2 separate regions of the Homo sapiens genome follow, and region 2 is linked to region 1. Evidence: fine-mapped expression QTL. A gene starts in region 1. The other region holds a variant in brackets. All regions are shown on one strand. Distances are between the middles of the regions.

Region 1 (16,362 bases):
AGTTCTCCTGATTCAAAGCGACTTTCCACTTCAGATATAAACAGCAGAGATTCCAAAAGGGTTAAACTCAGGGATGGAATCCCAGGGGTACCTTCTTTAGCTGTGGTCCCTTCAGATATGTCTTCTACAATAAGCACAAATACACCCTCACAGGGGATCTGCAACTCATCAAACCATGTTCAGAATGGAGTAACATTTCCTTGGCCTGATGCTAATGGAAAGGCACATTTCAATCTTACAGATCCAGAGAGAGCAAGTGAGTCTGCCCTGGCAATGACAGACATTTCAAGTCTAGCAAGTCAAAACAAGACCTTTGATCCCAAGAAAGAAAATCCCATCGTGTTACTTAGCGACTTTTACTATGGACAGCATAAAGGAGATGGGCAGCCGGAACAGAAGACTCACACCACCTTTAAATGCCTCAGCTGCGTGAAAGTTCTAAAAAATATTAAGTTTATGAATCACATGAAGCATCATTTGGAATTTGAGAAGCAGAGGAACGACAGCTGGGAAGACCACACCACCTGCCAGCACTGCCACCGGCAGTTTCCCACTCCCTTCCAGCTACAGTGTCACATTGATAGTGTACACATCGCCATGGGGCCCTCTGCTGTCTGTAAAATCTGTGAATTGTCATTTGAAACAGATCAGGTCCTCTTACAACACATGAAGGACCATCATAAGCCTGGCGAAATGCCTTATGTGTGCCAGGTTTGCCATTACAGATCGTCGGTCTTTGCTGATGTGGAAACACATTTTAGAACGTGCCATGAAAACACAAAGAATTTGCTTTGTCTGTTTTGTCTCAAACTTTTCAAAACTGCAATACCATACATGAATCATTGTTGGAGGCACAGCAGAAGGAGGGTCCTTCAGTGTTCCAAGTGCCGGCTACAGTTTTTGACGTTGAAGGAGGAAATAGAGCACAAAACCAAGGACCATCAAACATTTAAAAAGCCGGAGCAACTGCAAGGGTTGCCTAGTGAAACAAAAGTTATTATTCAAACTTCAGTTCAGCCAGGATCAAGTGGTATGGCTTCCGTTATTGTTAGCAACACTGACCCTCAGTCTTCTCCTGTAAAAACTAAAAAGAAGACGGCTATGAACACTAGAGATTCCAGACTCCCTTGCAGCAAGGATTCTAGCTGAAAATATGTTCGACTGACTTCCAGGAGTTCCGAAAGGCAGAAGTGAGGCTAGGCCATATGTGCATTGTGGCTGTAGATGCTAGCAAGCAATGTCATCAACTGTCAGGTTGTTTTTTACAGTGACATCTCATCAGCTCCCTATTGTCAAGAAGTAGCTCCAAAGTCTTTGAGCCCTTTCCCAGTCAAATGCTCCCAACAGGGCATCCCTTATTCTGACCTCAGAGGTTTTTCTTGTTCATGAACTTTAAATAAATGGAATCACACAAAGATTCTTGTCTTTGGCTTTTTAAAATAAGTGAGATGGCTGGGTGTGATGGCTCATGCCTGTAATCCCAGCACTTTGGGAGACTGAGGTGGGTGGATCACTTGGGGTCAGAAGTTTGAGACCAGGCTGGCCAACATAGTGAAACCCCTTCTCTGCATAAAATAGAAAAATTAGCCAAGCGTGGTGGTGGGCGCCTGTAGTCCCAGCTACTCGGGAGGCTGAGGCAGGAGAATCGCTTGAACCTGGGAGGGGGGAGTTTGCACTGAGCTGAGATCGCGCCACTGCCCTCCAGCCTGGGTGACAGAGCATGACTGTCTCAAAATAAAGTAAAATGAAATAAAATAAGTGAGATGCATTTTTGCTGTGTGTAGCAGTAGCACATTCTTTTTCATTGCTGGGTAGAATTTTGTTGAGTGACTGTGGCAGTTTTGTATAAATTTATTTCACTGTTGATGGACTTTGAGGCTGATTCTTTGGCAATTTTGAATAAAGCTGCTATGAGCTTGTGCGTGTCTTTTGGTAAGCATGTAATCATTTCTCGTGGGTATATATAGCTATGAGAAGTGCTGGAACTGCATATATTTAGCTGTCTAGTGTAGATACTGCCAAATACATTTCCAGAGTGATTGAAACGATTTACATTCCCACCACCGATACTGCGAATTCCATTGCTACTGATCCAGCACTTGGTACTGTCAGTCCTTTTAGTAAGTGCCCTTCTCTTGAAATTGTAGTGGTACCTTATTGTGGCTTTAATTTGCACTTCCCTGATGATTAATGGACCTTGAGATTATATAGTTATCGGCCACGTGAGTATTTCTTTTTATTAAATGTCTATTCAAGTTTTGCCCCCTCCTACCTTTTTAAAAACTGGGCTGTCGACTGGGAAGGGTGCTGGGGCACTGGAAATGTCCCATATTTGGATCTAAATCGTGGTTTTATGGTTTATCTTTCATGAGTCTTATTTAAGAAATTGTCTACAAACGACATAAAGATATTCCTTCTATGTTCTAGAAGCTTTACTGTTTTGATGAGACATCTCAAACTGATTTTTTGTTAATGGTGTGATAAGGCATGAAGACTAATTTTTTCATATACATACCCAAAATCAATCAGCACCACTTACTAAAAAGACCACTCCTTCCCTACTGTATTGCCGTGGAAACTGTGAATCAGGTATGATTGTATATATGTGTTTCTGGAATCTATTTCATTTCATTTGTCCTGTTCTCTATCCTTGTGCTAATGCTGCAGTATCTTAATTATTGTAGCTTTGCATAATCCTCCGTGTGGTAGTTTCATTTCTCCAACTTTGGTGTTCAAAATTGCCTTGGCTATTCCAAATGCTTTGCGAATTGAAGTGGCTTTCATGGGTGTGCTTTTCTTGGTCTCAAACTCAGGTAGAATAGTTTACTTTAATTGTGATGTTAGCTGTGGGGCTCTTTGTAGTTACCCACTGAGTACACGGGAATCAACTTACAAATCAGTAACAGAAAGATCACTGAAAAAAAACCCAAAGTTCCTAAATTAGGCAATACATTTCTAAACAGGGCTGGGACTAGGGTGAGGCAAGCAGGGAACCTAAGGTGACAATATGCCATACCTGAAGCTGGGCGTGGGTCTCTCCTTAATGTGCCTCAGCCTCCTTGCTTATCTCACCCCAGTCCTGGTCCTCATTCTGAATAACCCATAGCTCCTCTAAGAAATTGCAGTGAAAAAAGGAAAATGTTGAACTGAAAGATATTGAAAACAGCCACAAAATTTATGGGATGGAACTAAAGCATTTCATGGGAATTTATATTTCTAAATGCATATATTTGGGAAGAAGAAAGGTTGACTAATGATCTAAGTCAGTGCTGTCCGTAGATCTTTCTGCAATGATGAAAATGCTCTACTTCTGCTCTGTCCAATATGCTACAGGTGACTATTGATCTGTTGAAATGTGGCAAGTATGACTGAGGTACTAAATTTTTTATTTTATTTTTGATTAATTTAAAACTAAAAAGCTATTTTTGATTAATTTAAAACTAAAGGAAGAAGAGACAAATCTTCCTTAAAGAAGAATTGCAAAGTAACTTGTGTAGATAATTTTCCTTCAATGAGACCTCACGGCCTTCCTGCATGTAGGCAAGATTTAGAATAAGGTATGAAAGGGGGGGGAAGTAATTTACAGCGGAGAAGCCAGTAGGAAGTCTTATTGATAGCATGGATCGCTGATGAGAAATTATGAGAAAGACACATCATGTCTGTGATAGTCTTCTAAAAACCATAACCCCAGTGTAACCATGAGAAAAACATCAAACCTAAATTGAGAGACACTCTGAAAAATACCTGACCTTTACTTCTTAAAATTGTCAAGGTCATGAAAAGCAAGAAAAGTTTAAGAAACTGTCACAGACCACAGAAGGCTAAGAACACAAAATGACCAAGTACAATTCAGTATCCTGGGTGGGAATCTGGAACAAAAAGGATGATGGGAAAAACTAGTGACATTTGAATAAAGCCTGGAGCTTAGTTGATACTAATTTACTGATGGACATTGGAATTATTATGAAGCCAAAAGAAGATCATTTCTCATAGATTTATTTTTCATGTTATTATTTTTTGAGACGGAGTCTCGCTCTGTTGCCCAAGGCTGGAGTACAGTGGTGCAATCTCAGCTCACTGCAACCTCTGCCTCCCAGGTTCAAACAGTTCTCATGCCTCAGCCTCCCGAGTAGCTAGGACTACAGGCGCGTGCCACCACACCCAGCTAATTTTTGTATTTTTTGTACAAAAATGGGGTTTCACCATGTTGGCCAGGCTGGTCTTGAACTCCTGACCTCAAGTGATCTGCCTGCCTTGGTCTCCAAAAATGCTGGGATTACAGGTGTGAGCCACCGTGCCAGGCCTCTTACGTACATTTTAGATATTGCAAATATCTTCTTTACATATCAGCCTCATATATACATTTTAGATAATGCAAATATCTTTACATATCAGCCTCATATATACATTTTAGATACTGCAAATATCTTCTTTACATCTATGATCTCTTCATTTTGACTATGGTACACTTCACTGAACAGAAATCTTCAAATGCAAGGGTGAGTAATATTTAGGCCATGTGATTTGATTATAATACAATTAAAAAATCTTTTAAAAATCTCATAGATTTCAAAAATAAATAACATATACTATATAACCCTTGTGTTAGAAAGAATCACTATGTAAAAAATAGAGGTTCCTCTTCAAAGACTTTCCTCCCTGTCTAATTACGAATAAATAGTAACTTCTCTTAGAAGTAAAATTTATTCAAAGACCTGTGCTAACATTCTTAGATATCTGCTAGCCGTAATAAAGAAATTAATATACTTTGTGTTCTTAGCTCCCACAATTTAGCCTAAATATTTGCCCTTGCATGCTTATACTGGTCCAAGCAAGCATTAGGTCATAGCCTGTTCCTCTTCCTATTTGGAGGTGTTTTTACCTTTCTCAGCATTCTACAAGTTACATCCTCCTTCCTTTGTTCTCCTCTGCCTTTGCCTCTTTTAGAAAGTTCTAAGTTGTTAGCCAATCGGGACAAACACAGAATGTGAGGTCCTGTTCCAGCCAATGGAAACCGGACACAGCAGTAGGGTGGATGCGTCAGGTTATAAATAACCCTGTATCCTTTGTTTGGGGTACTCTCGTGGCAAAACTGCTGGCGAGTGTACCCTTTCTGCAGAAAGTGAAAATGGCCTTGCTGAGAAAATTAAATTTATGTTCAAGTGCTATTTCTTTGCGGCACCAGGGAACAAGCATTTCTAACAACTAGCAAAATTAGGACATATCTAATTGAAGGATAATGAACATATTACCAAGCGGACTGGTGAGACACAGTTAAACTGGTACTTAAAGGTAAATTTATAGCATTAAATACAAGAGAAACAAAAAAGTTTACAAGCAAACGAGGTAGGCATTTTTCTCCAAAAGTTGTAATGAGAAGTAACAGAACAAGCCTATGAAGTCACGAAGGAAGAAAATAACAGAATGGAAGAAATAGATAAAATAGATAAGAAAATAACATTATAGATTAATTAAACCAAAAGCGATTTACCCGCCCCCCAAAAAGATTGCTAAAATAGACTTTTGGCAGAATTGGTCAATTCAAAAAAAAAATCAAAGCTGCAAGTAAACTGAGTGGGCAAACTTTCTGTAAAGGGCCAGACAGTAAATATTTTAAGCTTTTCATACATGGTCTCTGGCAATTAATCAACTTTGCTGTTGAAGCAGGAAAACAGGCATAAATAATACCGAAAGGAATGGGCATGTTTGTTGTTCCAATAAAACTTTATTTATGGACACTGAATTTTGAATTTCATATAATTTTCACATGCCACAAAATATTCTCTTTTTAGCCATTAAAAAAACGTGAAATCGGTTCTTAGCTTGCTGCCAGCTGTACAAAAACAGGTGGCAGGCTGGATTCAACTGGCCCCAGATGTAACTAGAAGAGGACAGATGTTAGGTTCAGTTGTTTCCTCACAATCCCTTAAGCATGGATAGTCAACAAAGGGACCACACCTGAGAATTATAACAGCTGGCCTTCTGGTGGGCAAACCATCCCCTGATGGACTGGAAGCCTACCCCCCACCCCAAGCCCTGGCTGCGACAGCTCTGGAACCCTGACTGCCTGGGTGCCCCTCAGCTCTGGAACCCTGACTGCCTGGATGCTCCTCAGCTCTGGAACCCTGACTGCTTGGATACCCCCTCAGCTCTGGAACCCTGACTGCCTGGAACCGTGATCCGGAACCCAAGATCCTTTCAAGGCCTCAGGGGTATTGCTGCTGCCCTCCTCCTTCTCAATTTAACCCCGCGTCCAGCCGTCGCCACCAGGGGCGTCAGAGCGCGCGCATGCTCCTAGCTCGGAGCCGCGCCGATCTCGCGCCGGCACCTGGCAGCCAATCGCAGGTCTCCACTGGACGCGCGCGTGTGGAGGCGTGCGCGTCGGCGGCGCCGGGGGCCTGAGGAGGCGTAGTCGCCGCCGGCTGTGCCCCGGGAGCGCCTCCGGGGCTGGTGCGTGGCCGGCAGCTCGCGAACAGCAGCTGATCCGGACTGGTAAGGACGGGGGCGTGGCGCGGCTTCAGCGTTCCCTGAGGGGAGACTTGAGGGATTTCATGGCGAGCCGCAGCCCTGCGGGTCGCGACACCGCGCTTGGCCGTGCGCTGCCGGAGCGGCCTTTGCAATACAGCCGCTTTCTGTGGGGGAGTGCAGGGCAGAAGCAGGTCCCACGATCCCCTCACGCACACCCCCTTCCCTAATCTCAGCGGGCGCCACTTTTACATCAGCCTCCACTCCCTCACGCAGACGCCCCCACCCCCGGGCTGGGCCCGGGCCTCCTGGAGAAGGGGCCTTTCCTGGCTCCCAGTGCGCTCCCCTCCCCCATCGCCCCCGCGGGGTCTCTTTTGGCGCTCAATGTATTTAAAAATCTGAAAACTGCTTTGTAACCCCAGGCCCTCCCCAGTTCTGGAGACCTGTAGGCCCAGACCCCTTAAGGCATTTGAATGTATGGGTCTCTCTCCCCTACCGCAGCGTCTTGTCTCATTTACTGCGTCGCTGTCGGGACTCTTAATGCAGCCCCTGGGACCCTAATGGAGTCCCTCCCGTGAGAGCCAGGACCTCGGGTGATTTGCAGGCTTTTGATTTGGGCAGTTGGCGGGTGGGACGTTTTCCTTTGCTAAGGTAGGGTAGATTGGAGGAACAGATCTGGGGGAAAGGAGTTCAGTTCACTTATCTGGTTAAGTGTGAGATGATTGATAAACACCTAAATGGCAATGTCAGGCAGTGGGATCGAAAATATTCTTGTGACATGTAAGTAACTAATGCTTCTCTCTGGTTACCTCAAGGATGTGACCTTCTGCCTGGAATAGCTCAAGTTCTTAAAAGTTGCGTTGTAATAAACCTGAGGTAAGAAAAGAGAAGTCTCCCTGATGAGGACCAAAGTTGTATTTTCGTCCTTCAGTTTCGCTCCCCTGCCCTTTCCTTTGCTGAAACATAGCTGTTTGGTATTCAATATTTTACTGAGGGAATCTGAATGATGTGTTTGATTAGTTCAGGCCAATTGTTGATGTAGGTCATTCGGGAACCCTCTAAATTGCTTTGTTGAGAAAGGAGAGGGTGGTAGTGGCATTCTTTTACCACATCTCTTGAAAAAAAAAAAAAGAGCATCAGGGATGTTAAGTTATATAAAGCTGACTCCTTTTATCCTACCCTCTTTCTCAGCGACTGTATTTCATGAGGTAACTGCATGCAGCAGGACAGGGGAGGTCATCTGAAGTCATTGCATGCCAGTAGGTGAGATTATAGTGAATTGTGTGCCCAGCAATTTGTGATTACAGCTCAGTGAGACCCATTGTATTAGTTATCTATTGCCGTGTAACAAATTGTCTCAAAACTTAGTAGTTTAAAAAAAAATTTATTACCTCATAGTTTTTGAAGGTCTGGAATCCAAGAGTGGCTTAGCTGGCTGTTTCTGGCTCAAGGTCACTCATGAGGTTTCAGTGAAACCCTTGGCTGGATTGTCAGTCTCTGCGGAATTGACTTGGTTTGGATCATCTGCCTCTAAGCTCACTCACTGGGCTGTTGGCAAGAGGCCTCAGTTCCTTGCTCTGTGGGCCTCTCCATGGGGCTGTTCATGTCACAGCAGCTGGCTTACTTCAGAGCAAATGATTCAAGAGACCTTGTACCCAAGATGAAGGGCAGAGTCTTTATGACCTAATTTCTGAAGTGGCATACCATCACTTCCTGCTGTATGTGCTTGATCCCACAGGCCAACCCTGTTAGTGGGAGAGGGCTACAACTATGTGAATTCCAGGAAGTGGGATTCATTTAGGGCCATCTTGGAGGATGGCCACCGCAACCATTTATCCACCATTTAACCCTTTTCCATAGGATCTCAAAGCATTGTCCTGTTACTCTGGGTGAATAATTTGACTTCTTGCTAAGGCCAGAACCTCTACATGTGCACTTGTTTATTTAAGGATATTATTCTAGCAAGACTTCTCTTTGTCTAGGGTTAAGTTTTCTATCTCTCCAGATCATTAATATAGCAAACATACTGATTGTACCATCACCTCACCTTAAAGATCTCGTTTTTGATGCCACATCTCCCATCTGCTTGTTTTAATTTGTATTTGCTTGTCCTTACAGGAAAATTTCTCCAGAGTTGTCCGTATTTGCTATCTCCTGTTCTCGTTCTTCCTTAAACCCACTGCTGTCAAGGTCACCAATGAATTCCACTTTGCTTAATCCATTGGTCAGTTTTAGTTGATTTTCGTGATTTTATTTGATCTATTGGCAGCATATATTACAGTTCCTTTTCTCCTCCCCATTGGATTCTGGGATGCTTCTCTTTCTCAATTCTCCTCCCACCTGAATGGCTGTGAATAATTGTTTTTTTTTTAATTTCCTTTACCAGCTCCTTCTCATCTCCATGACCTCTAATCAATGGAATGCTCCAGAGCTTAGATCTCAGACCTCTTTTCCCTGAGTGATCTCATCCAGTCTTGTGTTTTAAATAATGCTACATACTGAAGACTTCAAAATTTAAGTACCTACCTCGGAACTTTCCTTGGGCTCTGATCTCATAGATTTACCTGCTCAGCATTACCTCTTGTGTGTCCTCCTCCTCTCCTTCACATCCCAAACCCAATCCATCAATGAACCTTGTGGGCCTTCTAGATTTTTATCTAGAGTCCGACTTCTTAGTATCTCTATTTCTCCATCCTGTCTGATACTACCATCATCTTTTGTTCATAATATTTCAGTAGCTTCTTGTCTTCTGCTTCCACTATTACTCTCTAAAGTCTATTCTCCACACAGTAGCCACAGCAATCCTAATGAAATGAGTGAGATCATATTACTTCTCACTCAGAGCCTTCCAGTAATCTCTCATCACACTCAGGGTAAAATCTGAAGAATTTGTTTTTATTTTTTGTCTATTTATGTACTTATTTTTTGAGATGGAGTTTCGCTCTGTCACCCAGGCTGGAGTGCAATGGCGCAGTCTCGGCTCACTGCAACCTCTGCTTCCTGGGTTCAAGTGATTCTCCTCCTCAGCCTCCCAAGTAGCTGGGATTACAGGTGCCCGCCACCACACCCAGCTAATTTTTGTATTATTATTATTTTATTTTTATTTTTATTTATTTTTTTGAGATGGAGTCTTGCTCTGCCACCCAGGCTGGAGTGCAGTGGCATGATCTCAGCACACCGCAGCCTCTGTCTTCTGGGTTCAAGCAATTCTCCTGCCTCAGCCTCCCGAGTAGCTGGGACTACAGGCACGTGCCAGCACACTTGGCTACGTTTTGTATTTTTAGTAGAGACGGGGTTTCACCATGTTGGCCAGGCCGGTCTCGAACTTCTGACCTCAGGTGATCCACCCGCCTCGGCCTCCCAAAGTGTTGGGATTACAGATGTGAGCCACCACACCTGGCCAAAGCTGAAGAATTTAGAATGGCCTACATGATCTTGGCTTTCCTTTGCCACAAACAGCTCATTTTTTATCTCATTTCTAACTTGTCACTCTTTTCATTGGTCCACCTGTGTTAGCCTATTGATCAGTCCTTGCATGTGTTAAGTGCTCCAGTCTCAGAGGCTTTGTGTTTGCTGTTCCCTTTGTTGGAGTATTCTTCCCCAGATAGCCATATTCATGTTATGTGAGTATCAACCTGCCTCCATTTCCTACTTTATTTTTCTCCCTAGTGTTTATATAACCATGTTACTTTTGTTAAAAAAATTATTTTCTGACTACCCCTTCTGGAATGTCAGCTCCCTGAAGTGAAAGACTTTGGATCACTGCTATATCACCAGACCAATACATGGCACCTTGTTGGCCCACCAAACTTTTATTGAATGAGTGGTCTTCTTAAATTCGTCTCAAATACTACCTTGATGCTTCCCTTTCTCCTTTTCTCTGTAGTAATGAGATTATGAGAACTGTGCAGATTCTTGATCATTCCTGTATAATTTCTCTCTTAGTTTTTTGTGGACTGGGATATGTTTTAATTCTACTGATTGAATACATTTTATAGCTATAGTTCCACTAAAATAGCAAACATCAGAACATCAAATGTGTATGTTTGGCTACACACAGAACCTTATATGATGGTCTTTCTGTAGATTAACAATTTCTCCCTAATTTCTTAACATCCCTCCCACCAGCTCAGTTCTAATGCAGCAATATTACCTTAGGGTCAATTTGATATGTGAAAAGAGAATAGTGACTTTCACCTTTTGGCTTTTAACACCTAGTTAATGTGGGCACAAGTTGTTTGTTTGTTTTTTTTTTTTTTCAGACGGAGTCTTGCTGTGTTGTCCAGGCCGGAGTGCAGTGGCACAATCTCAGCTCACTGCAACCTCTGCCTCCCGGGTTCAAGCAATTCTCCTGCCTCCTGAGTAGCTGGGATTACAGGCGTGTGCCACCACGCTCAGCTAAGTTTTTGTATTTTTAGTAGAGATGGGGTTTCACCATGTTGTTCAGGCTGGTCTGAAACTCCTGGCCTCGTGAGCCACCTGCCTCAGCCTCCCAAAGTGCTGGGATTACAGGCGTGAGCCACCATGCCCGGCCTGGCACAAGTTATTTTAATCTTATTCTTTGTTAGCTTCTTATACTTGTAAACTACAAGTGTGTTTAGGTCCATTCCTTGTTCTTTCCCTTCAGTGTGTAAATTAATCAGTTATTTGGATAATACTGAATAATACAATTCTGAGAGTTGAGCTTTAGCATTAGTGTTGTATAAGTTTGAAACAAAATGTGAATGCTCTGCAGAAGTCTTAACTGGGGTTTTTTCCCTGGGAGCTTCCCAGTCGCAGAGACCCAAGTTACATAGGGAGTCATGATAGGACCTATGTGGTCTGCATAGAATATGCTCTCACAGCTTTTCACAACCTCTAGATTCCTTATAACTAGGTTGACTATGTAATTTATCATCTAAACTGAAGGACTTATTAAAGATTGAAGAGTGGCACTATCCATAATTCCACAGAGATAGAAGTTTAAACTATAACTGTCTTGGTCATACCAGCATATTTGGTAATCCTACGTATAATTTATTTGGTCTTCCAAGTCCTTGGTATCGGAGAAGAGTTCACTCTGCAAGGAGATATAACTGTTCCATCCTTGGGAATGTATGACTCCCACTACAGTTTGTAAATTGACCACCTGATACTAGCTTAATTCTTTTTGTTCGCTAGATGAGCTTGCATTGTTCCATTATCCTTGCTACGAATTGAGTCTGCTTAATGGTGCTTTGAAAATTTAGCAGCAGTTGTTGGGAGATGGGGGGTTATACCAGCCTGTTACTAGGCATTTGTTTTTCTTTGAAATATAGTTCATATGCCATAAAATTCACCCTTTGCGGTGTGAAATTGAATGGTTTTTAGTATTATATACTTACAAAATTGTACAACCATCAGCAATATCTAATTCCAAGACATTTCATCAACTCTAAAGAAACCTTGTATCCATTAGCAGTCACTCCCTATATTACTTTTCCATAGCTGCTATAACAAATTATCACAAACTTGGTGGCATAAAACAACAAAAATTTATTCTCCCTTAGTTCGGGAGGTCAGAAGTCTAAAATAAGTTTCACAAGACCTAAATCAAGATGTTGGCAGGGCTGTCCTCCCCTGGGAAACTCTAGCGGAGAATCCATTCTTTGCATCTTCTAGTTTGTGGATGTGACGTTCTTTGGCTTGTGACCATGTCACTCTAATCTTTGCTTCTGTCTTCACATCACCTTTTCCTAGAGTATGTGTGAAATCTCCCTCTGCTTCTCTTACAAGGACATTTGTGGTGGCATTTAGGGCCCACCTGTATAGTCCAGGATAATTTTCCCATCTGCAAAGATCCTTTTTCCAAATAAGGTATCATTTACAGGCTTAAGGGATTAGGACCTGATATTTTGGGGGCCATTTTTCAAACCTGCTATATTCCTTTCATTCTTCTTCATCGAGCCCATGGCAGCTGCTACTTTATTTCTGTCTGTATGAATTTGCCTTATTCTGGACATTTTGTATAAGTAAAATAATAAAATATGCGGCCTTTTGTGTCTGGTGTTATTCACTTAGTGTATTTTCAAGGTACACCGTATTGTATGCTTGTTTGTACTTAGTTTTTTTATGGCTGAATAGTATTTCATTGTACGGATATACCACAGTTCGTTTATTCATTTATCAATTAATTTACATTCGGTTGTTTGCACTTTGTAGCAGCATTATGGCTATATTCCAGCTAGCTTATATATGTGTTATATTTTCAATTCTCTTGGGTATATACCTAGGAGTGATATTGTTGGGTCATATGGTAACGCCATATTTAAATTTTGAGCAATTGCCAAACTTTTCCAAAGTACAAGTTTATATTATCACCAGCAGTATTTGAGGGTTCAGATAGCTGCACATCCTCTGCAACGCTTGAGATTGTTTTTGCTTATAACTAACCTAGTGGATGTGAAGTAATAGCTCATTGTGATTTTGATTTGCATTTCCTTAATGACTATATTGAGCAGCATTTCATGTGCTGCTTGGCCATTTGTGTATCTTTGGAGAAGTGTTCAAATCCTTCGCCCATTTTTTATTGTTTGTTTTTGAGACAGGGTCTCGCTCTGTTGCCCAGGCTGCAGTACAGTGACACAATTATGGCCCACTGCAACATCAACCTCCCAGGCTCCAGTGATCCTCCCATCTCAGCTGCCACCCTGCCTCATTCCACCCCTGAGTAGCTGGGACTACAGGCGTGTGCCATGATGCCCAGCTAAATTTAAATTTTTTTTTTTTCTTGAGACAGTCTTGCTCTGGCACCAAGGTTGTAGTGCAGTGATGTGATCACGGGCACACTCTACCACGCCCGGTTAATTTTTTAATTTTTTGTAGAGGTAGGGTCTCACTATGTTGTACAAGCTGGTCTGGAATTCCTGAGCTGACTAAGTCCTCCTGCCTCAGCCTCCCAAAATACTGGGATTACAGGTATGAGCCACTGTGCCTGTGTTTTTAAATTTTTTGTAGAGAAGGGGTCTCACTACATTGCTTGGACTGATCTTCAACTCTTGGGCTCAAGCGATCCTCCCATCTCAGCCTTCCAAAGTGTTGGGATTACAGGCATGAGCCACTGTGTCTAGCTTATTTTTTATTTTTTATTTTATTTTATTTTTTTAACAGAGTCTCACTCTGTCGCCCAGGCTGGAGTGTGGTGGCATGATCTCGGCTCACTGTAACCTCTGCCTCCTGGATTCAAGTGATTCTTCCTGCCTCAGCCTCTCGAGTAGCTGCGATTACAGGCGCGTGCCACCATGCCGGCTAATTTTTGTATTTTTAGTAGAGACAGGGTTTTGCTATGTTGGCCAGGCTGGTCTCAAACTCCTGACTGTAAGTGATTCTCCCACCTTGGCCTCCCAGAGTGCTGGGATTATAGACGTGAGCCACCATGCCGATTGGGGCCTGTTTTTAAAATGAATTGTTTTATTGTGGTAAAAACGCATATAATTTACCACCTTAACCATTTCTAAATTAATAGTTCAGTAGTTTCAAGCATTGATGTGAAACAGATCTCTAGAACTTTTTCATCTTGCAGAACTGAAACAATGCCCATTAAACAACAGACTCACCCTTTTCCTCTGCCCCTAGCCCTTGGTAACCATTACTCTACCTTCTGTTTTTTGTTTTTTTGGTTTTTTGTTTTTTTTTTTTTTTTTTTTTTGAGACGGAGTCTTGGTGTGTTGCCCAGGCTGGAGTGCAGTGGTGCGATCTCCACTCACTGCAACTTCTGCCTCCCAGATTCAGGGGATTCTTCTGCCTCAGCTTCCCGAGTAGCTGGGACTACAGGTGTGTGCCACCACTACGCCCAGCTAATTTTTTTTGAAACAGAGTTTCTCTCTTGTCGCCTAGGCTGGAGTGCAGTGGCGTGATCTTAGCTCACTGCAACCTCCGCCTCCTGGGTTCAAGCAATTCTCCTGCCTCAGCCTCCCAAGTAGCTGGGTTTATAGGTGCCTGCCACCACATCTGGCTAATTTTTGTATTTTTTTTAGTAGAGACAGGGTTTTGCCATGTTGGCCAAGCTGATCTCGAACTCCTGACCTCAGATGATCTGCCCACCTCAGCCTCCCAAAGTCCTGGGATTACAGGTGTGAGCCACTGCTTCCGGCCTCTACTTTCTGTTTCTATGAATTTGACTATTTTAGTTACCTCATATAGGTGGAATTATACAAATACAAAAGTATTTGTCTTTTTGTGACTGGTTTATTTTATTTGGCATAATATCCTCAAGGTTCAAACATGTAGCATGTGACAGATTTTCTTCCTTTTTGAGGTTGAATAATATTCTATTGTGTGTGTGTGCATATATATATATATAATATTTTGTTTATTCATTTTTGGGTAGACATTTGGGTTGCTTCTACCCCTTGGCTATTTTAATAGTCCTTCTGTGAACATGGGTGTGCCAGTATCTCTTCGAGACCCTGCTTTCAATTATTTTAGATATATACCCAGAAGTAAGATTGCTAGAACATATAGTAGTTCTGTTTTTAATTTTATGAGGCATTTCTGTACTGTTTTCCATAGTAGTTATACCATTTTACAATCCAGTGACTGTGCATGAGGATTCTAATTTCTTTCCAACAATGTTTGTTTTTTAATAGTAGTCATCCTACTAGGTGTGAGGTGGTATCTCAAGGTGGTTTTAATGTGCATTGCTTTTATGATTAATGACACTGAATATATTTACTTGGTCTTTTGTGTATCATCTTTGGAGAAATGTCTATTCAAGTTCTTTGGCCTTTTAAAAAATTGAGTTATTTGTATTTGTCATCTCCATTATGGTTTTACTTCTTGCTTTCCAATCTGAATGCTTTTTGCTTCCTTTTCTTGCCTAATTACCTTGGCTATAGAACCTCTAGTACGGTGTTGAGTTGAAGTGGTTAAAGTGGATATCTGTCTTGTTCCTGATCTTAGGGGCAGGGGTACTTTCAGTGTCACCATTAAGTATGATACTATAATAGCTGTGAGTCTCATACAGATGCCTTTGTCTGGTGGAGAAAGTTTCCTTCTATTCCCAATCGTTTTGTTGTTTCAAATCATAAAAGGATGTTAGCTTTTGTCAAGTGTTTTTTCTGCAGGCAGGTGTAGTTTTTGTCCTTTATTAAAATGGTATAGGCTGGGCATGGTGGCTCACGCCTGTAATCCCAGCACTTTGGGAGGCCAAGGCAGGCGGATCACCTGAGGTCGGGAGTTCGAGACCAGCCTGACCAGCATGGAGAAACCATGTCTCTACTAAAAATACAAACAAATTAGCTGGGCGTGGTGACGCATGCCTGTAATCCCAGCTACTTGGGAGGCAGAGGCAGGAGAATTGCTTGAACCCGGGAGGCGGAGGTTGTGGTCAGCCAAGATCGTGCCATTTCACTCCAGCCTGGGCAACAAGAATGAAATTCCGACTCAAAAAAAAAATTAAAATTAAAAATAATAAAAATAAAATTATTGTTGGTTGATTTTCATAGAATGAACCATCCTTGTATTTTTTAAATAAATCCCACTTGGTCATGGTATGTAATCGTTATATATGTTGTTAGATTTTGTTTGCTAACATTTTGTTGAGGATTTTTGCCTCTGTAAGGGATATTGGCTGGGCACAGTGGCTCACGCCTGTAATCCCAGCACTTTGGGAGGCCAAGGCGAGCGGATCACGAGGTCAGGAGATTGAGACCATCCTGGCTAAAACAGTGAAACCCCGTCTCCACTAAAAAATACAAAAAAATTAGCTGGGCGTGATGGCGGGCTCCTGTAGTCCCAGCTACTCGGGAGGCTGAGGCAGGAGAATGGCCTGAACCTGGGAGGCGGAGCTTGTAGTGAGCCGAGATCACGCCACTGCACTCCAGCCTGGGCGACAGAGCGAGACCCCGTCTCCAAAAAAAAAAAAAAAAAAAAAGGATA
Region 2 (16,362 bases), 75 kb after region 1:
CAGTGCTGCCCCAGTCTCAGACCTATTGAGCCCTTCAGTTTCTCCCTGCCTTTGTCTATTTTCTTCTTCACCAAAGTTATGACTATGAGGGCCCCTCTTAAGCTGCAGTTGTATTTATTGCTCTGCAAAGAATTCCTGTACCATGACATACCTGTCTGGTCCATGCTGCTGTTTTTAGCAATGTCCTGGGATCTTGGTCTCACTGAGGGAGATTCTCTGATAGACATCAGAGTAGGGAGTCCAGTTTGGTAAAGGGGAAGCCACCAGAAATGCACGCCTGTGAGCAGAGTTGCCTCCTTCTTCCCCACTCAAGAGTGTGGCCCCTTTTCAGGCTGCCAAGTCTTGTCCTGGAATCTCTGGGCTGTCAGGGTGGGTCTCCTCCTACTCTCAGCCCACCCACCTTCAGCATCAAAAGGACCCTGGAGTTTTCTCACTGGACAGAAGGAGAGCCATAAGAGCCATACTGAGCTCTTCTGTCTCTTACATGTTGCTTATGCACCCCTGGCTTAAACCTCACTGTGTGGGGACCGAGTAGTCCCCTTGCATCTGGTTTTGAAAGACTTATGAGGTCCCTCATCCAGAGCTCTGGCTGCAGCAACCCCTGGGGAGGTCCTAAGTCTGCAGACTTGGAGAATAATAGAAAGAAGAATTAGGGAAGTGAGTAGGTGTTATTCATTGGAAATCGTATATGGTGTATTTAGTGCTAACTAACATGCTCACTGGAGGGTAGCTGTGTTAGAGAGACTCTGCCTTTGAGGTTCAGCTCATAGACCTGGCATCAGTAAGAGGAGACCAGCCCCAACACTGCCTCTTCCAAGCCTCGAAGCCTGTGAGGAGTTGGTAGATAAACTACAGCGCACCCAGGTAAATTTGTATTTCAATTTAACAATATCATGTGGGAGATACACATACTAATTCTTTGTCATTGTTTTACCGAATTCAAATTTAACTGCACTCCAATGTTTTTATTTGATAAATTGGAGAACCCTACCTCCAGGCCACAAGCACTCCCTCTCTAATCATGGCCTACTGCATGAAAAGCAATCATAAAGTTGTTTTTGGGCATAAATGAGGTCACACTCTCAGGAATTAAAAAGCTATTGGTCAATAGTAAGGTTGCAGTTGTAGTAAATCTTAATACAACCTATCAAAACTTCTGGGATACAGCAAAAGCAGTGCTATGAGGAATGTTTAGCATTAAATACGTACATCACAAAGTCTGAAAGAGCACAAATAGACAATCTAAGGTTACACCTCATGGAAATGGAGACTCAAGAACAAGGCAAACCCAAACCCAGCAGAAGAAAAGAAATAACGAAGATTAGACCAGAACTAAATAAAATTGAAACAAAAAGCAATGCAAAAAACAAATGAAACAAAAAACTGGTTCTTTGAAAAGATAAATAAAATTAATAGACCATTAGCAAGATTAACCAAGAAAAGGGAGAAGATCCACATAAGCTCAAATAGAAATGAAACAGAAGATATTAATACTGATACCACAGAAATATAAAAGATTATTCAAGGCTACTCTGATTACCTCTATGCACATAAACTAGAAAGCCCAGAGGAGATGGATCAATTTCTGAATGTATACAACCCTCCCAAATTAAATGAGGAAGATATAGAAACTCTGAACAGGCCAGTAACAAGCAGCAAGATTGAAATGGTAATTTAAAAAAAATCAACAAAATAAAGCCAGGACCAGACAGATTCACAGTTGAATTCTATCAGACATTCAAAGAAGAATTAGTACTAATCCTATGACATTAATTGTGATGGTTAATACCGAGTGTCAACTTGATTGGATTAAAGGATACAAAGTATTGATCCTGGGTGTGTCTTTCAGGGTGTTGCTGAAAGAGATTAACATTTGAGTAAGTGGGCTGGGAAAGGCAGACCCACCCTTAATCTGTGTGGGCACAATCGAATCAGCTGCCAGCATGGCTAAAGTATAAGCAGACAGAAAAATGTGAAAAGAGAGACTGGCCTACCCTCCCAACCTATATCTTTATCCTGTGCTGGATGCTTCCTGCCCTTGAACATCATACTCCAAGTTCTTCAGTTTTGGAACTCGAACTGGCTCTCCACTCACCAAGGGTGACCTAGCTATGGCTAATGCTGAGTGCCCAATTTGCCAGCAGCAAAGACCAACACTGAGCCCTTGATATGGCACCATTCCTTGGGGTGATCAGCCAGCTATCTGGTAGAAGGTTGATTATATTGGAAATCTTCCATTATGAGAAGGGCATAGGTTTGTCCTCACTGATATAGACACTTATTCCAGATATGGGTTTGCCTGTAAGACTACCATCCTCCGTGGACTCATGGAATGCCTTATTCACCATCCTGGTATTCCACATAGCATTGTTCTCGCCAGGGCACTCACTTTATTCATAAAGAAGTGCAGCAGTGGGCTCATGCTCATAAAATTCACTGGTCTTACCATGTTTCCCATCATCCTGAAGCAGCTGGATTGATAGAACAATGGAATGGCCTTTTGAAGTCACAATTACAATGTCAACTAGGTGACAATACTTTGCAGTGCTGGGGCTAAGTTCCCCAGAAGGCGTGTATGCTCTGAGTCAGCATCCAATATATGGCACTGTTTCTCCCATAGCCAGGATTCATGAGTCTAGGAATCAAGGGGTGGAAGTGGAAGTGGCAGCACTCACCATCACCCCTAGTGATCCACTAGCAAAATTTTTGCTTCCTGTTCCCACGACATTATGTTCTGCTGGCTTAGAGGATTTAGTTCCAGAGGAAGGAACACTGCCACTTGGAGACACATCAATGATTCCATTAAACTGGGGAAGTTAAGATTGCCACCTGGACACTTTGGGCTCCTCCTACCTTTAAGTCAACAGGCTAAGAAGGGAGTTACAGTGTTGGCTGGGGTGTTTGGGACAGACTATCAAGATGAAATCAGTTTACTACTCCATAACGGAGGTAAGGAAGAGTATGCATGGAATACAGGAGATCCATTAGGGCATTTCTTAGTATTATCATGCCCTGTGATTAAGGTCCATGGAAAACTAAAACAGCCCTATCCAGGCAGGACTACAAATGAACCAGATGCTTCAGGAATGAAGATTTGGATCACACCATCTGGAAAAATATCCACGACCTGCTGAGGTGCTTGCTGAAGGCAAAGGGAATACAGAATACAGAATGGATAGTAGAAGAAAGTAATCATCAATACCAGCTATGGCCAGCTGCAGAAACGAGGAGTGTAATTGTCATGAGTATTTCCTCCTTCTTTTGTTAAAAACATGTTTGTGCGTGTATACCTTTGTCCTAAGAAAATATCTTCATGTTATTTCCTTTCTCCTTTATCATGTGACATAAGATTTATTGACTTCACATCAGCGTTTAAGTATCGTTAACTTTATGTAACAGTATTTGGGTTGGGGATTGATGTGTTTCTGTTTGTATGAATGATAGTTGTATTATGTTAGGTGTCATTATGACCTTATTATTGTCTTTATTTGAAGATTATGTATGATCTCAGAAGATATATATGGGTTGAAGTTGACAAGGGGTGGACTTGTGATGAGTAATACTGAGTGTCAACTTGATTGGATTGAAGGATAAAAAGGATTGATCCTGGGTGTGTCTGTTAGGGTGCTGCCAAAGGAGATTAGCATTTGAGTCAGTGGGTGGGAAAGCCATGCCCACCCTTAATCTGGGTGGGAACAATCTAATCAGCTAACAGCATGGCTAGAAAATAAGCAGGCAGAAAAATATGAAAAGAGAGATGGGCCTAGGCTCCCAGCCTACAACTTTCTCCTATGCTTGATGCTTCCTGCCCTCAAACATGGAACTCCAAGTTCTTCAGTTTTGGAACTCGGACTGGCTCTCCTTGCTCCTTAGCCTGCAGACAGCCTATTGTGGGATGTTGTGATCATGCTATATATATACAGATTCCATTAGTTCTGTCCATCTAGAAAACCCTGACTAATGCACTAATTCACAGGAAGGAGAAAGAGGAAATTCTTCCTAAATTATTCTTTGTAGCCAGTGTCACCCTCATACCAAAATGAGGGAAGGACATAACAAAACAAGAAAACTACAGAACAATATCCCTGATGAACATAGATGCAAAAATAATAAATGAAATACTAGCTAACCAAATCCAACAGCTATCAAAAACATAGTCCACCATGTTCAAGTGGGTTTCATACCAGGGATGCAGGGATGGTTTAACATATGCAAGTCAATAAATGTGATATACCACATAAAAAGCATTAAAAACAAAAATCACATGATTATCTCAATGCATGCAGAAAAAGCACTTGGCAAAATCCAGCATCACTTCATGGTTAAAAGCCTTTGCAAAATTGACATAGAAGAGACATACCTTATGGTAAGAAAAGCCCACTCTTTCAAACCCATAGTCAACATTATACTGAAAGGAAAAAAAAGTTGGAAACAATTCCCCTGAGAACTGGAACAAGACAAGAATGCCCACTTTCACCACTTCTATTCAACATAGTACTGGAAGTCTAAGCCAGAGCAATCAGACAAGAGAAACAAATCCAGGACATCCAAATTGGTAAAGAGGAAGTGAAACTGTTGCTGTTGGCAGATAATGTGATCATATACCTAGAAAACCTTAAAGACTCATCCAAAAATCTCCTAGAACTGGTAAATAAATGGCCAGGCACGGTGGCTCACGCCTGTAATCCCAGCACTTTGGGAGGCCGAGGCAGGCGGATCACAAAGTCAGGAGATCGAGACCATCCTGGCTAACACGGTGAAACCCCGTCTCTACTAAAAATACAAAAAATTAGCCGGACATGGTGGCAGGCACCTGTAGTCCCAGCTACTCGGGAGGCTAAGGTGGGAGAATGGTGTGAACCCAGGAGGCGGAGCTTGCAGTGAGCTGAGATTGCGCCACTGCACTCTAGCCTGGGCGACAGAGCGAGACTCCATCTCAAAAAAAAAAAAAAAAAAAAAAAAGAACTGGTAAATAAATACAGCAAAGTTTCAGGATACAGAAGTAAGGCACACAAATCAGTAGCTCTGTTATACAATAACAGTGAACAAGCTGAGAATCAAATCAACAACTCAAACCTTTTTACAAATAGCTGCAAAAAAATACACCTAGGAATATACCCAACCAAGGAGGTGAAAGACCTCTACAAGGAAAACTACAAAACACTGCTGAAAAAATCATGTCACACATCCCCCGCTCATGAATGGGTAGAATCAATATGTTGAAAATGATCATGGTGCCAAAAGCAATCCACAAATTCAATGCAGTTCCCATCAAAATATCACCATCATTCATTACAGAACTGGAAAAAACAATCCTAAAATTCATATGAAACCAAAAAAGACCTGCATAGCCAAAGCAAGACTAAGCAAAAGGAACAAATCTGGAGGCATCACATCACCCAACTTCAAACTATACTCTAGCATAATTTGACTCACAGTCACTAAAACTGCAAGGTACTGGTGCAAAAGTGGGCACGTAGACCAAAGGAACAGAATAGAGAATCCAGAAATGGAGCCAAATAACTGATCTTTAACAAAGCAAACAAAAACATAAAGTGGAAAAAGGACATCCTATTGAACAAATGGTGCTGGGATAATTGGCAAGCCAAATGTAGAGGAATAAAACCGGATCTTCATCTCTCACCTTATGCAAAAATCAAGCCAAGATGAATCAAAGACTTAAATTTAAGGCCTGAAACTGTAAAAATTCTAGAAGATAACATTAAAAAAACCCTTCTAGACATTACTTTAGACAAATACTTCATGACCAAGAACCCAAAAGCAAATGCAACAAGAACAAAGATAAATAGATGGGACTTAATTAAACTAAAAACCTTCTGCACAGCAAAAGAATCAGCAGAGCTAACAGACAGCACACCGAGTGGAAGCAAATCTTCACAATCTATACATCCAACAAATGACTAATGTCTATAGTCTACAAAGAACTCAAACAAATTATGAAAAAAAATAAGCAGTCCCATCAAAAGATGGACTAAAGACATGAATAAACAATTTTCAAAAGAAGATATACAAATGGACAAAAGACATATAGAAAAATGTTTGACATCGCTAATGATCAGGGAAATGCAAGTCAAAACCACGATGTGATACCACCTTACTACCACAAAAATGGCCATAATCAAAAAATAAAAATAATAATAGATGTTGGCATGGATGTGGTGAAAACAAAACACTTTTACACTGGTGGTGGGAAGGTAAACTAGTACAGTCACTACAGAAAACAGTGTGGAGATTCCTCAAGGAAATAAAAATAGATGTACCCTTTGATCCAGCAATCTCACGACTAGGTATCTACCCAGAGAAAAAGAAGTCGTTATACAAAAAAGATACTTGCACACGCATGTTTATAGCAGCACAATTGTAAAAGCATGGAACCAGCCCAACTGCCCATAAATCAACAGGTGGATAAAGCAAATGTGATGTATACATACACATACCATGGAATATTACCCAGCCATAAAAGGAACAAAATAATGGCATTCACAGCGACCTGGATGGAACTGGATGCTGTTATTCTAAGTGCAGTAACTCAGGAATGGAAAACAAAACATTGTATGTTCTCACTCATCAGTGGGAGATAAGCTATGAGAACACAAAGGCATAACAATGATACAATGGACTTTGGGGACTCAGGAGAAAGGGTAGGAGGGGGGTGAAGAATAAAAGACTACTCATTGGGTACAGTGTACACTGCTTGGGTGATGAGTGCACCAAAATCTCAGAAATCACCACTAAAGAACTTATTTATGTGACAAAGCAACACTTGTCCCCCAAAAACCTATTAAAATAAAAAAATTGAAAAATAACCAAAAAGAGAAAAATCACTAAAACCCTTAAAAACCCAAATAAATCAGTAAATAAATAAATATATAAATAAATGAAAGACGAGAACCTCTTCCACTATAGAGAGAATCAGAAGCAAGAGATGAAGAAGCAAGAATCCCGACAAGCCATCACAGACTGTCCTGTCACCTTAGATGAACATTGCCCCTAAAGTTTGATTTGGATGCACAATAAATTCAAACTTTAAAATAAATACATAAATAAAATCAGAAAAAAATGGCCTAAGGACCTTCAAAGATAGTAAGGAGCCCTCTACGAGATGGGTACAATGCAGCAACAACAGCGAGAATCTCAAAAGAAGTGTGCAGAGTGAAAGAAGCCTGAACAAATGGGAAGATAATGTTTGATAACACTGATACATTCCAGAAAAGAGAAACCAAACAGTAGTGACAGAGGCAGATCTGCAACTTCCAAGGAGGGTGTTGGGGGAGGGAATGAGGTGACAAGGGTCATGAGGAGCTATTGGGGTTGGTCACAGGTTGTATGTTGTATAGCTCCCGGTGGTGGTGATGTTTTCAAGGATCCATAGAAATGCCAAAATTTGTCTCATTCCCTATTGTAAATATGGGTGGCTTATTATATGTGCATTATTCCTACATGAAAGGAGTTTTATTAAAAAAAGAATAGGCTGGAGAGAAAGGAAGCACAGGGATTCACACTGAGGAGAAGGGGGAGGAAGACACCACTCTGGAAACTCCTGGAAATGGAAAAAGTAGGATGATGGAGACACAGGTTCCCCAACAGAAGTGGGTCTGTGATGACACAGCTGGACCTGCCACCTCAGCCCAGGACTTCAGTGCAGAGACCCTGTGTCCCAAGCTACAGGGAGCAGGACA[C/T]CCTGCTTTTGTTTTCTGGACACCCTGTTCCTGACTCTGAGGACTCAGGGGAGGAGGAGCCTCCACTCTCAGGCAGGGCCCTGGATATCCCTGGACCCATGGGGGAAGCTGCAGCAGCAGAAGCCACAGGCCAGGCCTGAGCAGCAGCAGCCGGGGCTCACCCTCCTGGCAGAAAAGGAAGGGGGTTCTTGTCTCTGTTCCCCCTGGGCCTGGAGCACTGTGGGACCATTCAGGCTGTCATCCCATGCTGCACAGTAATAATCAGCCTCATCCTCAGACTGGAGCCCACTGATGGCCAGGGAGGCTGAGGTGCCAGACTTGGAGCCAGAGAATCGGTCAGAGACCCCTGAGGGCAGCAGATCATCATAATAGATGAGGAGTTTGGGAGCCTTTCCTGGGAGCTGCTGGTACCAGTTTACAGCATTATTTCCGATGTTGGAGCTGCTTCCAGAACAGGAGATGGTGACCCTCTGCCTGGGGGCTTCAGACACCGAGGGTGGCTGAGTCAGCACAGACTGGGCCCAGGACCCTGGAAGTGAGAGAGACACAGACATGGTGATTGACAAGAGACAAAAGGAGACAAGAGGAGAAAGCAGGGTCGCATGGGCTTCCCAGGGCCTCTCTCTTGGTCCCCATCCTGTCACCTGCACAGTGAGTGATGAGGGTGAGGAAGAGAGGGGACCAGGCCATGCTGGAGATTGTCCTGAGTCCTGTCTTCTCTACCCGCAGCTGAAGCTGAGCTTCCCCCAAATCTCTCCCTTTCTTCATACTCTGAGAGGGGGAGAGTCCATCCATGCAAATCAGACCCCCCCCAGGTTTGTGACCCCACCCTGAGCCCTGGGTCAGGCTCCTTGGCTTGAGGATGTCAGGGGGTGGCAGGGGTGGAGCTTTGTGGTCCCAGGGGGTGGGGAGGACACAGCTGTGAGCCCTGAGCAGAGGACACCAGGCAGGGCAGGCGGCTGGTTCTGCTCTGATCACCCCTGTCTTCTCAGGAATGATCCCCATGCGCCCTCTGGTGTCCAGATCAAGGTAAACCATTCTATGATAAGGTGACCAGAACCTCTCAGATACATGGCTTCCTCCCCCCATTCTGTCCACTGCCCCCTCTCTCAGGTCCAAGGCAGGCCAAGTGGTGTCTGTGTCTCCTCCCTGTGACTTCAGGGCTATCTTCACGCTCTACTGAGGAGTCTTCAGACTCCTCAGGAGTGAATCTTTCCATGGCTCTTTGGCTGTACATTGTAGAGGACTCAGGTGGTATCTACATAAAGTCCTATGTCAGGATCAAGCCCATAGCAGGGACCAGCCCCATGGACTCACCTCCCCACCTGTGTTGGACACCAGGTCCTCTCCTCTCATGTGGCTCCTTCCTGGTGGCTAGAGCTCTCCTTCCTCTGTGGATCCTGTGGCGCTGAGGAGAAAGGGAGCTCTTTCCTCTAGGATTCCCTGGGGAGGAATTCCCAGAGGGTTTTCCTGGTAAATCTTTGTTCTCCCTCTACTTCCCCAGATTTGCAGTCATAGTCATCTGGATACTGTGACCAGGGATCTTGCCTAGGAGTCTGTACACTAAATGCTCATCTGCAGGGGATCCTGGCAAATGACTTTGGAGTGTTTCACTTATGAACAAAAAGAGCAAAGATGCTCAGTCTTTGAAGATGGGAAGAATTAAAATTTTAACTTGGTTTAACCAGAGTCTGTCCTCAGGTGAGCCTGATACGTGTTAGCTCTCAACATCAAGCACCCCAACTAGGATTTTTAGGGAAAAATTATGGTTCAAATTCAGTAGTGAGTGTTATGGGGGTGGCTTAAGGATGATAGAAAATTATTTATCTTTGATCTGTAATGACAACTAGAATCTAATAAGCTAAAAACAAGCTTAAGAAAAATTGTAATTCTGTTGATCAGAATGAAAAATGAAACAGGTTATGCCTATGACTGCATGAATTCTGGCATGATACATCCTGGGCTCTTAATAATTACTAGTTTGGGGAATTCTATGGGGATGGAGGAAAACAGCTGGATGGTTTTGTTGATATTTCCACTGGTGAATGTATCACCAGGCAGTTGCCGTAGAATGAGATTTTAAGTGCTCCATTTAAAAATGGAATAGTGAGATTTAATATAGACATTTAAATAAAACCAGTCCATATATGGAACTGAAATAAAATGTATGCTGTGTTTTGGGATTGCATTTCAAGGGTGTCATTATTTTAAGTGTTCCTTTTAGTGTAAGCCATGTTCCTTTACATAATTTTTATAGCTTTCAAAAAATGTTTATTGCATTTACGTAACACATCAGGCATATTAAGTTTTATTTATTTCCAAGTAGAAACAAACTATTAGAGCTGGGCTTCACTTCCTGTTTGGCTCATTGCTTTTTCTTTGATGATGCATAGATGTTCACAGTGAATTTTGTTTTCCTTTCCTCCCACGTTAATGAACAGGGATCACCGAGGCTGAGCAGTGCCTCACATACAGGACAAGGCTGCCCATGGCCCCCTCCCTGCCCACAGATGTGCTTCCTGGTGGATGCCCCATCAGCTCTTAGGCTGAGGACAGAGAGGAGAACAGGTCCACAGCTACGGAATCTGGACACCCAGAGGATCCAGGAGGGACAACAGCTGGGACAGTGAGCCCTGGACAGAGGACACTGACCATGGATTTTTATCCTCATGGGACCCTCACAGACAGACCAAAACTCCAGTCTCTGTGTGTCTTCAGGGCCCAGGTCCTTCCAGGTCCTCCTTTTATCACTACTGTAGGCCCCGGCCCTACTCCTCCTATGAGTCACAATGGACAGTCTCCTCTTCAGGCTGCATTCTCCTTACCACATCTTATCCCACACCTGTCTCCCCATTCCCCCATAAACAATCCCCTGCTCATTTCCATTAGCATTTTTGTGTCATTCTGGGATCACAGCCTCCCAAGTATGTCTCTGCAGGATATCCATGTTGCAGAGAGCTCAACCCCTTGACAGGACCGCTGTGCCTGGGCCACCTAAGGCTGAGCATCTCTCTTGCTTCTCTTCTACACCAGCTCTAGGCCAAGCCATATCTAGACCTTTCAGAATGCTGAACCCACGTTTTCTTAAGCATCAGACTTCCTGTCTCACGTTTGGGTCTCTGGGTCACACAGGCTGGATTCTTCATTCTTGGCATCTCTCGCACAGTTTCTGAGCTCAGGAAATGGTCAGCATAACTGCACCAAGAGGAGGAGACACCTTTGGAACCAGACTAAAGGCTTCTGGGCCTCTGGGTCACACAGGGTGGATTCTTTCTTGTCCCTACCTCATCCCCACCCACCATGTGTGGGCAGCTCCTTTTGCTTCTAGAAACAAATTGATTCTGTTTGCATTGGGAGACCAGTAAGAAAAGGGATTATTTTTACTGAACTTGTGCTCTGCTTCAGTAACACAAGTGACAGCCGAAGTCTTGGCATGAACTGGTGTTGGTCACAGGCAGGGATAAAGGAGGGATGGGGAGACAGGATGAGTGGGGAGATCTTTCTCTCATTTCCACATGGAACAGGAACCCTTGGTAACATGGAGTCAGGATGCAGCTGTGTGACACTGATAACCAGCCAGTCCTCAGGCTGGAGCCGAGAGGTGCTCCAGGAGGCTGTGTGGATAAACCCAGAGCAGGAGAATGAGGCTGGGACCCCTGAGGGACCATCACTGCTGTCCTAGGTCATAAACTTGGGGGCTCTTTCTGGGAGGCCTCCGTAGCCATTTCCACGGGAATGCCCAATGTTTCTGCTGCTCCCCATGCAGAAAAAGGTGACCTTGAGATGTGGTGGTCTTTCCACATACTCACCACTAGACCCTGATTCAGCAAGAAGCTCCAATGGTGTAAGAGAGGAGAAGAGAACACAGGCGCTGAGGGATCAAGAAACCCACGCTCAGCAGTCCCCATGGTCCTGAGTGGGATGAGCTGCAGGAAAGTCACATCCATGGGACCTACTTCCCCCGTGGCCAAGGAGCAGCCTCTGGCTTGTCTCAGCCACAGTGGAGCCTCCCCTTGACTCTCCTGTCATGTCCTACATAGAGGTTTACTGGTCTCAGGTCCCCAGTTACCCTAATACCTAACCCCATCTCCTGACATTGCCACTGAAATGCAGGTACCCAGGACTGAGCCAGGTCAGCACTATATCTAGAATTCCCTGACCTGTGTCCTCAGGCAGCATTTCATATTTGAGTGCCTTGTTCCTGGGACACAGTGAGCCACAGACAGCCCTGAGAACAGACTACTGGGGATGGAAGGGGAGGTCTCTGCCCGTACGCTGGAAGAGCAGAGTCCATGCTGCAGGGCACTGTTCACCTGCTAGGATGTCCCCAGGCTCTGACCATGATGTGAGCTAGGAAAGCCTCATTTTGCTTCTTTCAAGAACAAAAGTCCAGCTCCACAGGCAGTGGTGTTAGCACATATGACAACCAGCCAAGACTTCAGTGTCATCAGTTGCTTTGGTTTTGTTTTGTTTTACTGAGACTTCAGACGAATGGATGGGAAATTGAGAGAAGAGCCTTTTACAACTAGAAAGTACTTCCAAATGTAGTTTGTGCCTAGGCCAGTTATTTTAAAATTTAAAATTTTTTAAGAACAAGACCTAAAGCAGGGTGAGGTTTTTGTCCCACTTCCCCATCTGTGTGTGTCACTGTGAGAAGCATTGCTTGGCCAAATCATACAGTAATAGTCAGCCTCATCCTCAGACTGGAGCCCGGAGATGAGTAAAATCCCTGTATTGGCTGAAGCATCTTTGGATCCAGAGAAGCGGCTGGGGACTCCAGAGCCCTGGCCCTTATCTGAGTCTGAGTAGTAGTACAGGAGATACCTGGGAGGGCTCCCTGGCTTCTGCTGGTACCAGTATATGTTGTAGCTACCAACATTGATGTCACTGGGCAAGGTGCAGGTGAGTCTGGCGGATTCTCCAGGAGATGCGGAGGAGGAAGGTGGCTGAGTCAGCACAGGCTGGGAGAGGGAACCTGCAAACACAGACACTCATGGTTGATGGGCAGGGTTCAGGGTGAGGTTTTTCAGGGATCTTTACCAGAAGAGCCAGAATCAGGTTGGGTGGCTGGCCCTGATCTCTGAGGCCTGTCCCTACCTGTGCAGTGAGAGAGGAGCAAGAGAAGAAGAGGAGTCCAGGCCATGGTGGACACAGCCTGACATGCACAGTGGGACTGGGCTGCCCCAGGCCTCCTTTTCTTCCCATACTCTGCAGAGGAGGGGCTGCTCATGCAAATGTGTTTTCATCCAGGGACTGCCCAGCCCCTCTCTAAGCTCTGGGGCTGAAGCTCAGCTCACACTGCAGACTGAGGAGGAAGAAGTTTTGCTTTTCCCCTTGAGAGGGCTCCGGAAGAAAGCACCTACTGAAACCATACACACCTTCCTGCTCAGGGGACTCTGCCATGCCATGGGAGGACATAGATGCTAAGTACCCCTCAGTGAGCACGGGGTCTTAGCCCCTAGTCTTGGATTTCTTTGAGTGAATGGTCCTTACTGAGCAGCTGTGTAGGGACCATAGGGCAGTCCCCCAGCATCCCATGCTGGTTAGAGGACACTTACCTCCTGATGGCCCAGCTGATCTCTGCAGCTCATTAGTCACTGTCTCTATTCACACCTCTATGGTCTGATTGCTAGACACTAATTCCATAAGGCTATGCATGATTATTGTGATTTCTCACTCCCAGAGTGAGTCTTGGTCCATGGGATGTAGACATGTACATATATAACTTTTAAAATCTAGAAAAACCTAACTGCCCACATGTGCCATCAGGGTAGGCATCATGGAGAAGAGGTCAGCTGAGGAGCTAGGTTGAAGGGCAGCTGGGGGTTACTCAAAAGGACGGTGAATAATGAGAATTTTGCAAGAAAAATAAATGATCCATGACATGTTAAAGTAGCAATTCAGCAAAAGTTATCTCTACAGTGGTTTCATACATTTTAGAGTTTTTACTCAACGTAGTGATATAGGGAAATGAATAGCATTGGTAAACTTACTTTTACAAGTGAGTAGTGTGACATATTTCTCATTTTATACAGTCAACCGTTATCTCCCTAAGTAAAACTTGTTGTTTTCTGCACAGTTGTGTCCCTGCTTGCTCTGACCGATTTGGGCTCTGTTCCTAGGGCAGCCTGTTCCAGGAACCAAGGACTTTCTGATTTTTTTTGAGGCAATTTGACAATGCTGTTGCTATGGGCTTTCTCTGAGGGCTGACTCTGAGGAAACAAAGCTGCATTCTCTAAATCACTGTCCCTGACCTGAGACCTGGGCCCTGGCTAGCACCAGCCCAAGCAAACATGAACACAAATGGTAAACAGCCCAGTTTTCCCAGTTGTAGGTGGTGCTGTCGGGTCGTGCTCCTAGGAGACCTGAAATGTTCCCATCTCACTTCCCCACAGACTGCAGCACCGTGGGGGCCTCCAGAGAACTGTCCAAATCCAACGTTAATGATCAGCCTTGTCCTCAGCCTGGAGCCCAGATATGCTCAGGAAGGCCTCCTTGCCAGACTGATCACTCAAGAATCAGTTCTGGATCTGCAGGTGGATATTTACATCCACAGATCAGAGGTTTAAGGACACTTCCTGTTCATTGTTGGTACCAGGACACAATTCCAAGGACGTTATTGCTGCTGTTTCCAGTGCAGGAGATGGTGGCTGGTTTAGTCACAGACAAACTGTGCAGGCCACCAAGTGAGCCCTGACTGCCCAGGACCCTAAGAGTCAGGACAGAGACACAGGGTGTGGGAAGTGGCTCGGTGAGCCGGGGGAGCAAGGCAGAGCCCTGGTCCTCCCAGTGCCAGTCCCTGCCTTTCTATCTCCAGCCTCCTGTGCAGAGACTGAGGAGGGTGAGCAGCAGAGGGATTCAGGCCATGGTAGAGAAGTCTCTGGAGCTCTACTTCCTGAGCCACACAGATTAGGGGGAACAGCCCCTTTTCCCTGGCCCTTCTTAGAGGAGGGGACTCAATGCAAGTCTAACCTGTCCCCATGGTTGTTCCCTTCACATAAGATGCTGAGTCTGATTATACTTCTCGAGGACTGGGTGGCTTCTTGAGGCTGGGTAGGAGAGCATGGTCAGTGACTCTTCAGGCACCCTGGGAGGATGCAGCTGCTGGGCCCTATGAATACTAAATAGAGACAGGGAGACAGGTGTCTGGTGTCCCAGCCAAGTCCAGCCATGAACTGACTTTCCAGGCTGCACAGAAATCCATGGGTCTCTCTTCCTTCTTGATTCTCACTGGATCAGCACATAAGGCAGAGTGGTGGAGTTTGGGGAGAATAAATGAGCATGCTTGTGTGGTTCACTGGATTCAGTGGAAATGCAGAGGACTCCAGGGATCAGAAGGAGAAAAAAAAAAAGGAGAAGGAGGAAGTGCTAGCTGAGGCAAAATAGGAGAATCAGCCAACTCTGGGCTACTTCAGAACTAGGGAATCAGAGAGGCTCGTAAAAGAGAAAAAATAGGCTGGGCACAGCGGCTCATGCCTGTAATTCCAGGACTTTGGGAGGCTGAGGAGGGTGGATCACTTGAGCTCAGAAATTCAAGACCAGCCTGGGTAACATGGGGAAACCCCATGTCTACCAAAAATACAAGATATTAGCAGGGTGTGGTGGTGCGTGCCCATAGTCACAGCTACTTGGGATGCTGAGCTGAGAAGATTGCTTGAGTCAGGAGGTGAAGGTTGCAGTGAGTTGAGACCACAGCCTGGGCAACCAGGGTGAGACCCTGTCCCTACCCCCACCCCCACCCCACCCTACCCCCCCAAAAAAAGAGAGAAAATGTATGAATGTCCAATTCCAAGAAAAAAAATCTGGAAAAATACCAATAGGCTTCCTGCTATAAAGCTCTTGATAATTAACTCAGGATGATAGAGGGGAGAAGTGGTTGACAGGAAAAGGAGAGAGACCCAAGAAGGGAATTCAGGAATCAGAGATGTGGGAGGGGAGAGGGTAAGGATGGGCTACACTACAGAAAAGACTAGATGAGAAGCTAGTAAGAATGTTGGATGGGAGCCAGAGGGGAGGTCAGGTTAGTTGTTTGTTTGCTTTTGTTTTGTTTCTTAAAGAAAGGGGAGCCTCTCCCTGCTTTGCAGCTGTCCTCCCTGGTCGTCTTCCTGCATGGAGTGTGGCTCGTTCCATCTCAGCTTACCGCAAACTCCGCCTCCCGGATTCCAGTGATTCTCCTGGCTCAACCTCCCGAGTAGCTGGGATTACAGGCTGCGCCACCACGCCCGGCTAATTTTGCATTTTTAGTAGAGACGGGGCTTTTCCATGTTGGCCGGGCTGGTCTGGAACTCCCGACCTCAGGTGATCTGCCCGCCTTGGCCTCCTAAAGTGCTGGGATTACAGGCCTGAGTCACCACAGCCAGCCAAGTGTGGGGTTCTTCTGTCATCCAAACACATTAGTTCACTATGTCTGAGATATCTCTTAGGTTATTGTCTGCCAAGGTTTCTCCTTATTTTACACTATTCTTATGAATTTGTTATGGCTGTTTTTGTTATTAGAGGTAAGGTCTCACTTTGTCACCCAGGCTGGAGTGCAGTGGCATAATCATAGCTCATCGCAGCTTTGAACTCCTGGGGTGAAGCGACCCTCCTGCCTCAGCCTCCTAGGTATCTACGATGACAAGCATGCCACACTACGCCTGGCTAATTCATTTTTTATTATTTA

The links.
Region 2: its variant is fine-mapped to the expression of ZNF280B in lung (TOPMed, PIP above 0.99).

Annotation. Positions count from the first base shown.
Region 1 is chr22:22,498,789-22,515,150 of GRCh38, reverse strand. It overlaps ZNF280B (zinc finger protein 280B), which reads left to right and starts at 6,409. Exons shown (of 4, transcript NM_080764.4): 1 at 6,409-6,492; 2 at 7,281-7,341. ZNF280A (zinc finger protein 280A) reads left to right here. Exons shown (of 2, transcript NM_080740.5): 2 at 1-1,415. The coding sequence ends at 1,149. It also overlaps IGL.
Region 2 is chr22:22,424,026-22,440,387 of GRCh38, reverse strand. It overlaps IGL, the pseudogene IGLVI-38, IGLV5-37 and IGLV1-36. Among named protein-coding and RNA genes, the nearest start is that of ZNF280B, 77 kb to the left of the region's middle. The variant C/T (reference allele first, on the strand shown) is at 7,701.